Linked DNA regions of Homo sapiens. The protein of the gene in region 1 purifies or fractionates together with the protein of each later gene. This does not show direct contact. Each region holds a gene or a part of one and is shown in the gene's direction. Other genes may lie near its edges. The genes, in order: PTPN9 and LZTR1.

Evidence for each region.
Region 2: the proteins of PTPN9 (region 1) and LZTR1 purify together in Homo sapiens (affinity purification with mass spectrometry; 3 studies listed by BioGRID and IntAct, with this or other methods). This does not show direct contact.

What each region holds. Positions count from the first base shown.
Region 1 is NC_000015.10:75,519,615-75,527,481, reverse strand, and holds part of PTPN9 (tyrosine-protein phosphatase non-receptor type 9), read left to right. Parts: intron 1-220; coding exon 221-364; intron 365-3,183; coding exon 3,184-3,273; intron 3,274-4,236; coding exon 4,237-4,361; intron 4,362-7,867. UniProt on the Homo sapiens protein: Protein-tyrosine phosphatase that could participate in the transfer of hydrophobic ligands or in functions of the Golgi apparatus.
Region 2 is NC_000022.11:20,992,297-21,000,163, forward strand, and holds the end of LZTR1 (leucine-zipper-like transcriptional regulator 1), read left to right. Parts: coding exon 1-73; intron 74-497; coding exon 498-608; intron 609-1,365; coding exon 1,366-1,458; intron 1,459-1,627; coding exon 1,628-1,723; intron 1,724-1,807; coding exon 1,808-1,973; intron 1,974-2,261; coding exon 2,262-2,431; intron 2,432-2,573; coding exon 2,574-2,730; intron 2,731-3,449; coding exon 3,450-3,576; intron 3,577-3,666; coding exon 3,667-3,816; intron 3,817-4,399; coding exon 4,400-4,505; intron 4,506-4,589; coding exon 4,590-4,670; intron 4,671-4,935; coding exon 4,936-5,052; 3' UTR 5,053-6,736; downstream 6,737-7,867. Other genes in the region: THAP7 (THAP domain-containing protein 7), read right to left, coding at 7,584-7,867. UniProt on the Homo sapiens protein: Substrate-specific adapter of a BCR (BTB-CUL3-RBX1) E3 ubiquitin-protein ligase complex that mediates ubiquitination of Ras (K-Ras/KRAS, N-Ras/NRAS and H-Ras/HRAS).

The sequences.
Region 1 (7,867 bases):
TGAACCTAGATCTGGCTTCTGGCCTCATTGAATTATACAAATTTTAACTATGTCTGGTTTCAGACCTGTTTCTACCTTTTTGTTTGTCTTTCCCTGCTCCCTGTAGCAAACTGGGTTCAGACTTGCTTGGAGAAGGGATGATAGTTTTCACTTGTTTGTTTTTTGACTCCATAAATATGCTCTCTTCTTACTAATTATTCTTTCTTTCTTTGTCAAACAGGCTACCAAGCAGTTTCTCGAAGAGATTAACAAGTGGACAGTTCAGTACAATGTTTCCCCGCTGTCTTGGAATGTGGCTGTCAAGTTCCTCATGGCAAGGAAGTTTGATGTGCTCCGTGCCATAGAATTGTTCCACTCCTACAGAGTATGTGGCTCAGGGGTAGACCAGACCTGTGGCAGTTGGGTTAAGTGTTGCTGTTGTCCCTGTCATGCTCGACACACACATTGGTTCTCTAAGTGTTCCTCCTCACTTTCATAAAAAATGGATCCATATCCAGGAGCCCTTGTGAGAGCTGAAGCTGGGCAAGGCAGCTACTGGAAGGCACTACTTTTGTACCTAAGTTTTGATCGTAGACCAGGATGCCACATCTAATGATTGAGACGGAGGAAGTAGCCTGACAGCATCCTGGTGGCAGGATAGGGGTTCACCCTTCCTAGAGTTTTAATCCTAGCTCTTTTCATTGGCCTCTGGCCACATGAAAATCTTGGTTTTCAGGTTGTCTAAGGCTTTTAGAAACTTGCCATTCAGATGAATGATGAGCTTAGTGGGCAGTTCAGGAAGGGAAGTTTTAACACTGGAAAAGAAGAGCAACTGTGTATTAGCTAGGTCCATTATCTTAAAGTATCTTTATGCAAATGTAGCGGCATCAGGATTTTACTTTGTTTTGATTTTTGTTTTTTGAGGGGGCATAGACTTTGGTTTTGTGCTTGTTTGCTTTCTCAGTTAGTAGTGTCTTTGATAAAACACTATACAGCATGTTACTTTGGGGTCAGAATCCTTCTAAAGAAATACAAAATCTCCCTAAAAAAAAAAATTGGGATAACAAGCACTAGGATTAGCTTAACTGAAGTTTGGTTACATCTGTCTTGTGGACCAGCTCATTCAATATTCATTCATTTACTCAACAGATACTTATTTTATACTTACTGTGTTCCAGGTGCAGAGATTACTATTTAGAAAGAGAGACTAGGGCTGGGTGCGGTGGCTCATGCCTGTAATCTCAGCACTTTGGGAGGCCAAGGCAGGTGGATCACTTGAGGTCAGGAGTTTGAGACCAGCCTGAACAAAATGGCAAAACCGCATCTCTACTAAAACTACAAAAATTAGCTGGGTGTAGTGGCACCTGTATTCCCAGCTACTCGGGAGGCTGAGGAGGGACAATCACTTGAACCAAGGAGGTGGAGGTTGCAGTGAGCCGAGATCACACCATTGCATTCCAGTCTGGGCAACAGAGTGAGACTGTTTAAAAAAAAAAAAAAGAAAGAGAAAATAAACAAAGAGTTGTAGAAATGTTATGATAAGGCAGCACTGGATTCTGTGGAAGCACTTTTTTTTTTGAGACAGAGTCTTGCTGTGTCTCCCAGACTGAAGTGAAGTGGCATGATCTCAGCTCACTGCAGATCTCTGCCTCCTGAGCTCAAGTGATCCTCCCACCTCACCTTAGCCTCCCGAGTAGCTGGGACCACAGGCATGCACCACCATACCTGGCTAATTTTTTGTATTTTTAGTAGAGACGGGGTTTTGCTATGTTGCCCAGGCTGGTCTCGAACTCCTGAGCTCAAGTGATCCACGCACCTCGGCCTCCCAAAGTACTGGGATTACAGGCATGAGCCACCGTGCCCAGCCTAAGAGGTTTAAAACAAGCGGTTGATGAAATAAGACAAACCAAGATAATATTTTTTTGTTATCGGTATATAAAGGTAGAGAATGTCTCCGGAAAAAGGAAGTGTAGGTGGTCAACCTTGTCATTTAAGAGGAGAACTGAAGAGGCTGGGCGCGGTGGCTCATGCCTGTAATCCCAGCACTTTGGGAGGCCGAGGCGGGTGGATCGCTTCAGCCCAGGAGTTGGAGACCAGCCTGGGCAACATGGCAAAACCCCGTCTCTACTAAAAACACAAAAATTAGCCAGGCATGGTGGCACGTGCCTGTAATCCCAGCTACTCAGGAGGCTGAGGCAAGAGAATCTCTTGGACGTGGAGGTTGCAGTGAGCCAAGATCATGCCACTGCACTCCAGCCTCAGCAACAGTGTGAGACTTGGTCTCAATTAAAAAAAAAAAAAGAATCTGGCCATCAGGGTGAGGAAAATGAAGTCATGGTAGCTGCTGTTGGAGACAATATCAGGTGGAGAGAAGGCTCCTATTTAAACATAGGAGAGGCCTAAACCTAGAAAATATGTGAGAACGTAGGCATCCAGACATTTTTGAGGTCCATATTTTAGTGTCCTGGTACCATGTCAGTGCTGCTGCGTGTTTAAGAACCTTGATCCTGCACCTGAATGTAACATACTGGTTACTCTTCAGGGTTAGGGTTCTTACTGAGTCAGAGAAAAATACCCTACCTGAGGGGCTGATAAAGTAGCTTTGGACAGGAATTCCGAAAATGCTTGACTGGCTTGGAGGCAGGTTACAAAGAAATTCATAATTCATTTAGTTGACTTCATTATTCATTTAGCTGAATTCTTTTTTTTTTTTTTTTTTTTTTTTGAGACAGAGTCTCATTTTGTCACCCAGGCTGGAGTGCAGTGGTGCTGTCTTGGCTTACTGCAACCTCCACCTTCTGGGTTCAAGCGATTCTCCTGCCTCAGCCTCCTGAGTAGCTGGGATTATGGGCGCGCACCACCATGCCAGGCTAATTTTTGTATTTTTAGCCGAGACAAGGTTTCACCATGTTGGCCAGGCTGCTCTCGAACTCCTGACCTCAGGTGACCTGCCCGCCTTGGCCTCTCAAAGTGGTGGGATTACAGGCGTGGGCCACTGCGCCCGGCCCATTTAATTGAATTCTAATTCAACTAAATGAAGTAGAATTGGTTATGAAATTAGTTACAAAATTTATTTAGTTATGAAATTTATAATTCATTCATTCATTGATAACCACCTTATCTCTGAGATTTGGTGGTTACATGGTGCTGTCCTGGATATACAGTATTTTCATATTAATACATTTTGCTGTGCTTCCTTTTTAGGAAACTCGAAGGAAGGAAGGCATTGTAAAGCTGAAACCTCATGAGGAACCTCTTCGTTCTGAGATCCTCAGTGGAAAATTCACCATCTTAGTGAGTGTTTAGGGACCTATCTTGTAGGGCCTTATTACTTCCTTTTTTAACTGGTGTCCTGTTTGGACTTTGTTTTTTTTTTTTTTTTTTTAATTTTATTATTATTATACTTTAAGTTTTAGGGTACATGTGCACAACGTGCAGGTTTGTTACATATGTATACATGTGCCTTGTTGGTGTGCTGCACCCATTAACTCGTCATTTAGCATTAGGTATATCTCTTAATGCTATCCCTCCTCCATCCCCCCCTGTTTGGACTTTGTTCCTATATACCTTATCCTGAATCTAGAGAGTCTCCACAGTTAGGAGCAGATGTGAAACAGCCATGCAGTTTGGTATAAAATTATTTTAGTAACAATTGAATTACTAATAGTTTCTAGTAATTAGAGTTACTAATGATAATTGAATAATTGAATTATGGAAAATCAGTTGTACAGTAGACTTAGAAAAGTTTCTTCAGTTGGTCCATTAAGGTTAGTCATGGTCTTTGGGAGAGATATGCAATGTGTCAGACACCCATGCTTCCATATTTAACGCAAGCTCTCCACTTAGTTGAGACCTCAGCCTTTCAAGTAAACATACAATGGCACTTTTAAGGCAGAGGGTGGAAATCATGGTCCTGTTCCCTGGTTCTCTCCTGCTGCTTGTTTCTTTTGCCATTCTGCCAGGGAAGTTAGCTAGGAAGCCAGTGCACAGCCATCCTTTGATCTGTCTGTAGTTGAAGAGCAAAGAGAATGTGTTTTTTTTTTCTTACCACAGAAATATGGTCCAGGGAGTCCTGGGAGAATCAGACAAAGGATGATATTAACACTCTTCCCTTTGGACAGCAATTGGTGAAGTCAGGGAATTATTGTTAGCATCTGTTTTCTACATGTATCAAACCCTTATCCAGTATATAAGTCTTAGTAATTGCTGTGATTTTCTATTTGATTTTTTTAATGTTTCTTGTTTTATTTGCTTTAGAATGTTCGGGACCCAACAGGAGCCTCCATTGCCCTCTTTACTGCCAGGTTGCATCATCCCCACAAGTCAGTCCAACATGTGGTACTTCAGGCTCTGTTTTACTTGCTAGACAGAGCTGTGGATAGGTAAGCATTGAGATTATTTTTTAGGTATTCTACATGCAGGTAGGAAAGTGACAGTTTTTTACTTGATTAAATTCAGCAGTGCCTTCGCCATTCTCCTAGGATGTGCCCTGGGCAATGCTATGAATAGAAAACAATCCATGTCCTTTAGAACTCGGCATGTTTGCAGGCACTATCAAGATGGTGGGCGTTCTCTTTACCACCTTGGCTCTATGTCAGGAAAACAGAAGCTGAGAAAGTCAATTATCGGCAATCTTCAGTGTATGGAAAACTACTTATTGGAAAAGAATGAGGGGGAGATGACCTGTGCTGGTTCTTTTTGCTCATATCAGAACCTCTAAGGCCTCAGTTTCTTTGTCTGCATAACAGGAATAATGCCGTTTAGTTCAGAGGATTTTGAGACTCAACATTCAGGGGAGGGCTGGGTGCAGTGGCTCACACCTGTAATCCCAGCACTTTGGGAGGCTGAAGCAGGTGGATTGCTTGAAGCCAGGAGTTGAGACCAGCCTGGACAACATGGTGAAACCCTGTCTCTGATAAAAAATACAAAAAATTAGCTGGGTGTGGTAGCGTGCACCTTTAGTCCCAGCTTCTTGGGGGAGGTGGGGGAGGTTGCTGAGGTGGGAGGATCACTTGAGCCCAGAATGGTGAAGCTGTAGTGAGCCATGATCACGCCACTGCATTCCAGCCTGGGTGACACAGCAAGACCTGTCTCAAAAAAAACCCCACAAAAAAGCCCACACAAAACAAACAACAACAACAAAAAAACATTCAGGGAGAAGCCCAGAAGTATAAAGTTAAGCAAAAACCATCCTTAATAAAAAGAGGTGCATAAGCATAAAGAACCAGCTCAGGTCATCACTCTCTTCCTGCTAAGGTAATTGGTATTGTTACAATTCAATTGACAATTAAACTCAAGCCCCAAGAAGTTTTTTACAGTCATCATATGTTAGTCCAGCTGGTTCTAAGATCCTGGTTTCTTCACTCTTGGGCAGAGTTATTTCTGTCCTCCCATGCTGTTGTTCTGCTATTCCTTTTTCCCTGGTGCTTGTAATTTACAGTTTCTTACTGCTCTCGACATCTTTGGCTGGTCCTCCGGATTAGAAGTGCTATATTGAGGCCAGGCGCATTGATTCATGCCTGTAATCCTAGCACTTTGGTTGGCTGAGATGGGCAGATTGTCTGAGCCCGGGAGTTTGAGACCAGCCCTGGGCAACATGATGAATCCACTCGCTTCTTGAGGGCAGGAAACTTTCTTTTTAACATCCGAATCTCTGTAGGTTGAGAGAGAATGGTATCGTGAACATCCACATATCCATCATCCGTCTTCTTCAAAGTGATCTGTAACAGTCTTGTTTCATTGGTAGCCCCTCATGGATCTCCTATCCTCAGTTTCTTTCTTTTTTGTTTTTTGAGACTAGGGCTTGGTTTGTCACCCAGGCTGGAGTGCAGTAGCATGATTGTAGCTCACTGCAGTCTTGAACTCCTGGACTTAAGCAATCCTCCCATCTCGGCCTCCCAAAATGCTGGGATTACAAGCATAAGCCATTGCATCTGGCTTCTCCGTTTTTTTAAAACCAATGTCAGGGACTGTATTTTAAACTTCTTGGTGTTTTCTGTAACATGTAGCTCAAGAATTAAAAAAATATTTTTTTTATTTTTTTTTTCCTTTGAGACGGAGTCTCGGTCTGTCCCCCAGGCTGGAGTGCAGTGGCGCTATCTCAGCTCGCTGCAAGCTCCGACTCCCGGGTTCGTGCCATTCTCCTGCCTCAGCCTCCCGAGTAGCTGGGACTACAGGCGCCTGCCACCACGCCCGTTTTTTTTTTTTTTTTTTGTATTTTTAGTAGAGATGGGGTTTCACCTTGTTAGCCAGGATGGTCTCGATCACCTGAGCTCGTGATCCACCCACCTCAGCCTCCCAAAGTGTTGGGATTACAGGCGTGAGCCACCGTGCCCGGCCCATTGTAAATCTTAAACTGGGTGCAGTGGCTCATGCCTGTAATCCCAACACTTTGGGAGGCCAGGTGAGAGGATCGCTTGAGCCCAGAAGTTCGAGACCAGCCTGGGCAACATAGCAAGGCCTCGTCTCTACAAAAAGTTTAAAAATTAGGCAGCCAGGCATGGTGGTATTTGCCTGTAGTCCCAGACACTCACGGAAGGCTGAACTGGGAGGATCACCTGAGCCCTGGGAGGATCACCTGAGCCCTGGGAGGATCATCTGAGCCCTGGGAGGTCGAGGCTACAGTGCGCCATGATTGTGCCACTGCACTACAGCATGGGCAACAGAGTAAAATGCTGTCTTAAAAATATATATATTCTGGTGGCTCACGCGTGTAGTCCCAGCACTTTGGGAGTCCAAGGGGGTGGATCTCCTGAGGTCGGGAGTTTGAGACCAGCCTGGCCAACATGGTGAAACCCCGTCTCTAGTAAAAATACAAAAAATTAGCCAGGCGTGGTGGTGGGTGCCTGTAATCCTAGCTACTCGAGAGGCTGAGGCAGGAGAATCACTTGAACTTGGGCGGAGGTTGCAGTGAGCAGAGATCGCACTATTGCACTTCAGCCTGGGCAACAAAAGCGAACTCTGTCTCAAAAAAAAAAAAGTATATGTATATATATACACACATATATAAACACACACACATCTATCTATCTATCTATCTATCTATCTATCTATCTATCTATCTATTCTATACCCTAAAGTGTGAAAATCTTACTGCATTCATGTTTTATGTGCCTTCACAGGATGAGCACTTTGATCTGGGAATATAGAACCTGGATCATTCATTATGCATCCAAGCTTCTTTTTTTTTAAATTCTCTTTGCCCCCTCACTGACTTGTTTTTGTTTTAGTCCCCTGCCACAACCTGGAGTCATGAGGGGAAAGCCCATAATTTGAATTTGACCCTTGAGGAGCTCATGGAGAAATAGAAAGTATCTAGATCTGGATAGCCTATTCAATAATTGTGCCACACATTTTCTTTGTTTCTTTTTATTTAAGAGACAGGGTCTCACTTTTGCTCGGGCTGAAGTGCAGTTGCATCATCATAACTCACAGCAGCCTCAACTCCTGGGCTCAAATGATCCTCCTGCCTCTGTCTCCCAAGGAGCTGGGACCACAGGCACGTACTAATAAACCCGTCCAATTTTAAAATTTTTTTGTAGAGGCGGAGTTTCACTCTGTTGACCAGGCTGGTCTCGAACTTCTGGCCTCAAGCAGTCTTCACATCTCAGTCTCCCAAAGTGCTGAGATTACAGGTGTGAGTCACTGGACCTGTCCTGTGCCACACATTTTAACAGCATCTTGGACCTTTGTGGATCATAGTCTCTCTGGGGTTGTGAAAAAGGAGTCAAGGGCAGGGCGCAGTGACTCACACCTGTAATCCCAGCACTTTGGGAGGCCGAGGGGGGCAGATCACTTGAGGTCAGGAGTTTGAGACCAGCCTGGGCAACATAATGAAACCCCATCTCTACTAAAAATTAAAAAATAAGTAAAGAAATAAATAAGAAAA
Region 2 (7,867 bases), on another chromosome or scaffold:
GAAGTCCCGAGATGTGTTTGGCCTGGACTTTGGCACCACCTCAGCCAAGCAGCCCACCCAGCCTGCCTCGGAGGTACAGGCTGGGATCCTCATTAAGACTCCATCACCCCCTGAAACAGGTCCTGTGATCAACACCTCTCACACATGGGGAGACTGAGGCCCCGAGAAATACTTGCTTGGGGTCACACCACAAAGGGGGTACAGGGCCAAGGGCCCTCACCCTGCTGGCCAGGCTGCAGCTTTCTGGGGTGGGTGCCACACACTGGCCCAAGTGCCCTGACCACTCTGAGGGTCTCCATGGCCCGTCATGCCCCACTCGCCTACATGGGTACCAGGTCCCACCTGTGTCTGTACCCAGGGGCCCTCATCCCTTGGGGACCCTGCCCCCTGGCCCTTCATGGCCATGAGGTGCCGCATCCTTGCCTTACCTGGCTGCACCAGCCGCACTGTGGAGGCTCTGCTCCCCCACCATTCCACCCTGCCTTCTTGTCCCCCAGCTGCCCAGTGGGAGGCTCTTCCACGCGGCTGCTGTCATCTCGGACGCCATGTACATCTTCGGGGGCACGGTGGACAACAACATCCGCAGCGGGGAGATGTACAGGTTCCAGGTGTGGGGCCTGTGGGCCTGTAGAGCCGGCTGGGTGGACGGATCCCCCGTGATGAGAAACTGAGGCCAAGTTGGGGGGCAGGGCTTATCCAGGCCATTGCCAGGGCCACACCTGGCAGGATGGAAGCCTTGGGAGGAGCCCTGTGGGCTGAGGGTGGGCTGAGGTGGCACTAAAGTGGGCAGCCTTCGTGCAGTGGGGCAGGCAGATGGTGCTGGGGCTCACGGCAGAGTCAGTGGAGGGAGCCGGGCCAAGCTGGGCTCAGCACCAGAGCCTCACAGGCATCATAGCCTGGCCCAGGGCAGAGCCAGGGCCGACAGTGGCTTGCGTTGACAGCCCCTTCCCAGGCCTGGAGGAGCAGGTGGTCAGGGCAGGGACTCACAGCCACAGTGAGGTCAGGGCCAGCTTCCTGGAGGAGGTTGGGATGTGCTGGTGGGGGCCAGTGTGAGGACGCAGGTCCAGGCAGAGTGGAGACGGCAGAGCTCTGCTGAGGCCTGGGGCCCAGCCGAAGGCAAGAGAGGCAGGGGAGCCCTTTCCTGCTGTGGAGCCGGCCGTGGACAGTTGCAGGTGCTGAGGCTGGAGCCAGGCTGTATTTTCAGGGTGGGGTAGCGGCTGCTTCCTCTCCTCAGCCAGGCCCACCTGCCTCCTGGGCCCTGAGGGTCAGCATGGGCCAGGTGGGGACCTCAGGGTCGGCCTGCACAGCCACACTGGGGCCACCCTGCTGTCTGCAACATCTAGTCTCACTGGGCCCCTCTTGCAGTTCTCCTGTTACCCTAAATGCACGCTGCACGAGGACTACGGGCGGCTGTGGGAGAGCCGCCAGTTCTGCGACGTGGAGTTCGTGCTGGGTGAGGTGGGTGCCTGTCCTCGCACCCTGCTCTGCCTGCTGTGCCTGGGCAGTGGGAATTTCGCCCCTCAGAAAAACAGCTGCTGGCCTGGTGGTGCTGACCTTGGCTGGCTGGGTCTCTGTTCTCTGGGGCGAGGGTCCTGTGCCCTCTGCCAGTGCATCATTCTTTGTGCAGAAGGAGGAGTGCGTGCAGGGCCACGTAGCCATTGTCACAGCGCGGAGCCGCTGGCTTCGCAGGAAGATCACGCAGGCGCGGGAGAGGCTGGCCCAGGTGAGGTGCCTAACCGCCCTGCCCTGACCTGGCAGCCATGCCTGGTGTCCACTGGGGTGTCCTTGAGCTCCCTTCTCCCCACAGAAGCTGGAGCAGGAGGCCGCCCCAGTTCCCAGGGAGGCCCCCGGCGTGGCTGCTGGTGGGGCCCGGCCGCCCCTGCTGCACGTGGCCATCCGGGAGGCCGAGGCCCGGCCCTTCGAGGTGCTCATGCAGTTCCTCTACACCGACAAGATCAAATACCCACGGAAAGGTCCGCCTGGGTGGGGGTGGAGCAGGGTTGGTGTGGGCTGGGGTGCGGGCAGCAGAGCCAAAAGGTGGGTGCTGCCAGCCCTGCCTTACTGATGGGCCCCCTGAGGCTCAGAGGCTGCAGGTCACCCTCCTTACCCATGATCACTGCAGCTGGACGCCATCTGAGTCCCCCGAGGCCTTGTTCCTACCTAGTGGCCCCAGCCCACACTCTTCCATGGGGGGAGCCCTGCGCCCTGTGCCCTGCCCTCCCCTCTCCGGCTCCCTGAGATTCGGGGGCTCTGGGGCGCAGGCCATGTGGAGGATGTGCTGCTCATCATGGATGTGTACAAACTGGCACTGAGCTTCCAGTTGTGCCGCCTGGAGCAGCTGTGCCGCCAGTACATCGAGGCCTCCGTGGACCTGCAGAACGTGCTGGTTGTGTGCGAGAGTGCCGCCCGGCTGCAGCTGAGCCAACTCAAGGTGTGGGGTGGGGTCAGCGCAATCAGGGTTGGGTGGGGTGTGCTCAGGCTTAGGCCCCCTCCCTGCCCACCACTGTGAGCCCCTCGCCCAGCCTGGGGCCCTGGCTTGACTCTGCCTGCCTGCCTGTGCCTGTCTGCCCCAGGAGCACTGCCTGAACTTCGTGGTAAAGGAGTCCCACTTCAACCAGGTGATCATGATGAAGGAGTTCGAGCGCCTCTCCTCTCCACTGATAGTGGAGATTGTGCGGCGGAAGCAGCAGCCGCCCCCTCGCACTCCCTTGGACCAGCCAGTGGACATTGGTAGGGAGCCCCGTTCCCCTTCCCTGGGGGCTGGGAGGGATGGTGTTCATCTGCGGTAGGAGATTGGGAGCCATGGAGAGCACCTGCCAGGCCCTCGGGGTGGGGGTGGGTGCCATGGGACCCCAGAGTGCTCTCCTGGGTACAGGGAGGAAACAGATGAAGGCAGAAGCCCCCGACCCATGGGGCTTGCCACAGTGGGCTGTGTCCTGGTGACCTGGGATTTCCTGAGCCAATTTCTGGGGGTGGACATGGGGCACCTCTTTCGGGCTAGGATGTCAGGTCTGATGGCCCAGGGTCACGGTGATCAGTCTCTGGACTTCTCTTTGCTTGTAATGTCACAGGCCCCTTCATTCCCCCAGCTCTCCCTGGGGCTTGTGCTGACCCCGGTTGCTGGCTCTTGGTGATGTCTGCAGGCACCAGAGGCCATGCAGTGGGCCTGGAGGGGGCTTGATCATGAGGTCAGCGAGGGGGTACAGCAAGCTGGGTGGAAGATGAGACGCTGGGTGGTGGGCTGTGCGTGGGGCATAGTGCTTGAGTCGGCCAGGGCGCCGAGGGAGGACAGAATGTGGCTGATGGTACCTCAGGGCGAGTGAGGCCTTCTGCCTGGGTGAAGTTTTGTTCAGGGCAGCAACATGGGCAGATATGCAGGAAGGTAGTGCCGTGGGGCCCCAAGGCCAGAATCCCAGGCTGTACCTGCTCAGGGACCCTCCTACCCCCAGGCACATCTCTGATCCAGGACATGAAGGCATACCTGGAGGGAGCGGGCGCGGAATTCTGTGACATCACTCTGTTGCTTGACGGGCACCCACGGCCAGCCCACAAGGCTATCCTGGCCGCCCGCTCCAGGTGGGTGGGGGCTGGACAGGAGGGGAGGGTGGGCCTGGATGGTGTCTTCGTTCTGCTGACGGCCAGGTGCCTACCGCTCGTTGTCTGCAGCTACTTTGAAGCCATGTTCCGGTCCTTCATGCCCGAAGATGGGCAGGTGAACATCTCCATCGGGGAGATGGTGCCCAGCAGGCAGGCCTTCGAGTCCATGCTGCGCTACATCTACTACGGCGAGGTCAACATGCCGCCCGAGGACTCGCTGCATCCTCACTCCCCAGTGAACTCCCAGGTCCCCACCAAGGGGTCCTGGCACCCACCTCAGGTGGCTTTGAGGCCCGCTCTCCTGCCCCAGCTAGGTGATCTGGGCCCAGCGCCTCCCTCCAGAGGGTTTGCTGGTGCCTGGGGCTGGGCCTGGTGCTCTCTGAAGCAGTTGGCAGCTGGCAAGGAGGGGTTTGCAGCCAGGAGGAACCAGTGGGTTCCTGACCCTCACAACTGCCCAGAGGACGGGGTGGGTCATTGCTTTGTGTGACAGTTGAGCACAGACATGGAGGTACTCCTTATGTCACTTCAGTAGGGGTCTGAACATGGAGGGTCAGGATGCCTGTTAGGCCTGCAAGGCCATGGAACAGCGCTACAGATGTACAGACACTATTTTTCTCGGGAGGGGATTCATGGTTTTCTTTGGATCCTGAATGGGGCCTTTGACCCACTAAGTAGTTCAGAATCCATTTGGAGAGCATGCTGGCGTGGGGGCTTGGGGCTCCAGCTGCGCCCTTCCCTGTCCTTCCCTGGGAGGGTGCGGGCGGACCAGCTTCCTTTAGTCAGCTCCTTAACCAGGCCCCAGCTACTTGTTTGCGGCCCCCTACTACTACGGCTTCTACAACAACCGGCTGCAGGCGTACTGCAAGCAGAACCTGGAGATGAACGTGACGGTGCAGAACGTGCTGCAGGTAGCCCCCCAGCCCCGTGCACATGGCTGCAGCTCCCACTGAGTGGGTGAAAGGGGCAGCGCCTCAAGGTCCCTGCCATTGCAGATCCTGGAGGCAGCTGACAAAACGCAGGCACTGGACATGAAGCGGCACTGCCTGCACATCATTGTGCACCAGTTCACCAAGGTCAGGGCTCTGGCCTCCCCTTCAGGACTCGCTTCCCCTTGGCAGTGGCCATGCCCAGGCAGGGAGGGTGCCCAGGCTCTGTGGTCCCCTGCAGTGGTGGGCCCTGGGGGTGAGAGAAGCAGAGCAGCCCATCACTGGCCGCACCTTGCTTCATCCTTGGGACCAGCCTGAGCCCTGAGCAGGGTAGGCCCCACAGGGCTCCACTGCCCACCATGGCCCTTAGGTGGATCTGGTCCCATCTCCTTCCGGCCTGCTTGCCTTACAGGTCTCCAAGTTGCCCACCCTGCGGTCGCTGAGCCAGCAGCTGCTGCTGGACATCATAGACTCCCTGGCCTCCCACATCTCAGACAAGCAGTGCGCAGAGCTGGGCGCCGACATCTGAGGCCCTGTGGCGCCTGCCCATTGTGAAGAATCGCCGTGCCTGCCTGCCCTGCCTACTGAGAAGACTACCGGCTATGCGCATGCCTATGGCAGTGGGTGCACCTGCCAGGCCAAGGGTCAGGGTGCCCAGAGCCTCCAAAGAGAGCTGAGGGGATGTGGGGCCCCAAACTCATTAATTCACTGAAGACACAGGTCCCACAGGGAGCGGATGATGAAGCAGACCCCCTCCTGTCATCACCCTCTCCTGGTGTAGTGTGGATGCGAGGCCACGGCTCAGTGATGGGCTCACCACCCAGAAGTGGGGAGAGACTTTGGGCCTCCCACCCAGTGGGGCTTGGCCTGGCTTCTGTGGCCTGGGCGTGTTGTGGACTCAGGCACTGGGGCCTGTCACCAAGGCTCCTCCAACATGCGGGAGGAGGCTTAGCAGACTTGCGCTGCACCAGCGAATCTGCCTGGGCTGCTCCTGTCCCACCCACCCTCACTGAGATCCATGTAAGGGGCTCCTCTTCCCACCTGGAACTTGTGAGTGGGGACCCATGATGTATGGGTCTCACCTGACTTGAGGTGAATTTTGGAGTGAAGGGCCCTGAGGTCAGCTCCCAGGTCGGTCGTGCTGGGCCAGGCCTGGTTTTCACAGGGGCTGAAGGATCCCAGTCCACCTGTGTGCATGTCAGGGCTCGGCCGGGAAGAAGCCAGCAAAGTCCCCCGTGTCCCTTGCTGAGTATTCTGTCACAGACAAGCCTCCATTAAAGCCACAGCAGTGCTACCCACCACACACACCTTGCTGGCCCGGCCACCACTGCTGGCTTCAGCCCCTTGAGCAGCCCATGGCTTAGCAGACCCCCAGATGTAGGTCAGTGGCCTTACCTGTCTCTATCCATGCTGTCAACTCCTGCCTCCACCTGGGGTCACCCAGTCACATTGGGAAGGGCTGTGAAGGCCTCCAGGCTGGCCCCTTCCAGGGGAATCCTGGAGGCCTGGGGTGGGCTCCTGCCCCTTCTGCCCTGCCTTGCCCCTGCACTATGCTCTTGGCTCCTGTGGAAGGAGGGCTGCCCTCTTGCCCTAGTGAGGGCCCCATGTGGATCCACTCTAGTGCTGGGAGCCAGCGCTCCCTTACTGGGAACAGGATTCCAGGACCCCTTTCTTGTTGTGGCTGCCATGAAGCCACAGCTCCTTGGGGAAGTGACCTGCTCTCCTTTGGGTGTATGCAGGTGTGTGGGGGGCCCTGAGTGGCAAGTTGCTTAGCTAACAGGAGATCCATAGGCAGCCTGCAGGCTAGGAAGTGGCCTAGTGCAAGATGAGCTGGGAACAAGGGAGGAGAGAGCAGGAGCTGGGGCAGAGGCTGAGCCGGGAGGCCCTTGAGGTGAGGACACAGCAGGCCCAGGACCATGGCTGGGGAGGATATGTCAGCACCTGGAAGTGGAGTGCAGGCTGCAGCGCCCAGCCATGTGGGCCAGGTGCATTCACTCAGAGTGGGGCCACACACCCATCTACCCAGTTTCCACAAGATGTGGCTCCTGCCACACCCACAGGGCAGCCTCCTCCAAATCCCTCCTGGAGGGGCCTACCCAGAAGCCTCCTTGAACCAGTCTGCAACCCTGCTCTATGCTGACCCTTGTCACTGAACCCTGATCTAGACTTATATGAATAAATGAAATTACATGCCAAGGGCCCTAAAAAGCAAATTTTACGAAATTGTGTGGCAGTTTCTGGGACTAGAATGAATTTCATTTGTGCTCCTCGGCAGGGAGAGGCCATACTTGCAGTGAGTCACCCCAAGACGGAGCTGTTTGAGAACTGCAGCTGCAGCAAGGCCTTCCAGGTTCCTGGGAGTTGAAGGAAAAGGATGCTGAGGCCAGGACCTGAGTGCTTGTCTCCATGTTCTGGCCACCTCTTCCTAGATTTCCAGGGACTAGCTTGTTGGGGCTTTACTACCTGCTGACATGACCCAGGAGGTTGATGATTGTCATCATCATCCCCGTTTTTCAAATAGAGATGGTAGTGAAGGGGGCGGGGAGAGGGTTGTCCAGCTTACCCACCAGGCTGATGGGGCCTGTGGACAGAAGCCTGTCATGCTCCTGCTTGAGAACCGGATCTAGACTGGGTTTTAGAAGTGTTCTCAAAGGGGCTGGCTGGTTTAAGTCAGGGCTGTTTCAGATCCTATGGAAAGGGCGCCTGGAGCTGTCTTCCTGGCCCCTACTCACACCATCCTGCCCCTTCAGAGAACCCTGTGGGGCACGGAGCTGCGCTAGCAGGGCTGACTGCCACCTGTCTACCAGTAGCTCTGAGGGGTGAGAGCCAGGCTCCCTGTTCTCCTTGGCAAAGAGCTTGGACTGAGCCCTCTAGGAGCTGCAGCCACTGTCTGGGGCAGCAAGCTTAGTACTCAGAGGGGCTCCAGCCCCCAGCTGAGCCAGACAGCAGGCCCTCCGTCTAGAATCCGCTTTATTATGGCACCTGGTGGGTCTGGTGGGATCTGAGGGAGGAAGAGGCTGCAGTCTTGCTGGGCAGCCCCTCGGTCAGTCCAGCAGCCCCTCAGGCCATGCTGCTGCTCAGCTGCATGGCAAAGTCCTGCACATGCTCCTTCAGAGTCTGGCGGGCATCTGCCTGTGCCCGCTTCTCCCGTGCCCGCTCCTGCTGCAGCTTGGTCAGTCTCAACCGCAGCCGCTGCTCCCGCCGCTTGCAGGCCTGCAGCTGGCGCTGGGCCTTGTCAAGGGCATCAAGGGCTGCCTCGGCTCGCCGCTTCCAGAGTAAGGCGCTGCCCACCTGGTAGCTGTGTTCATTCTGGATGTAGGCTCCGGCGGGTGGGGGCAGGCGCA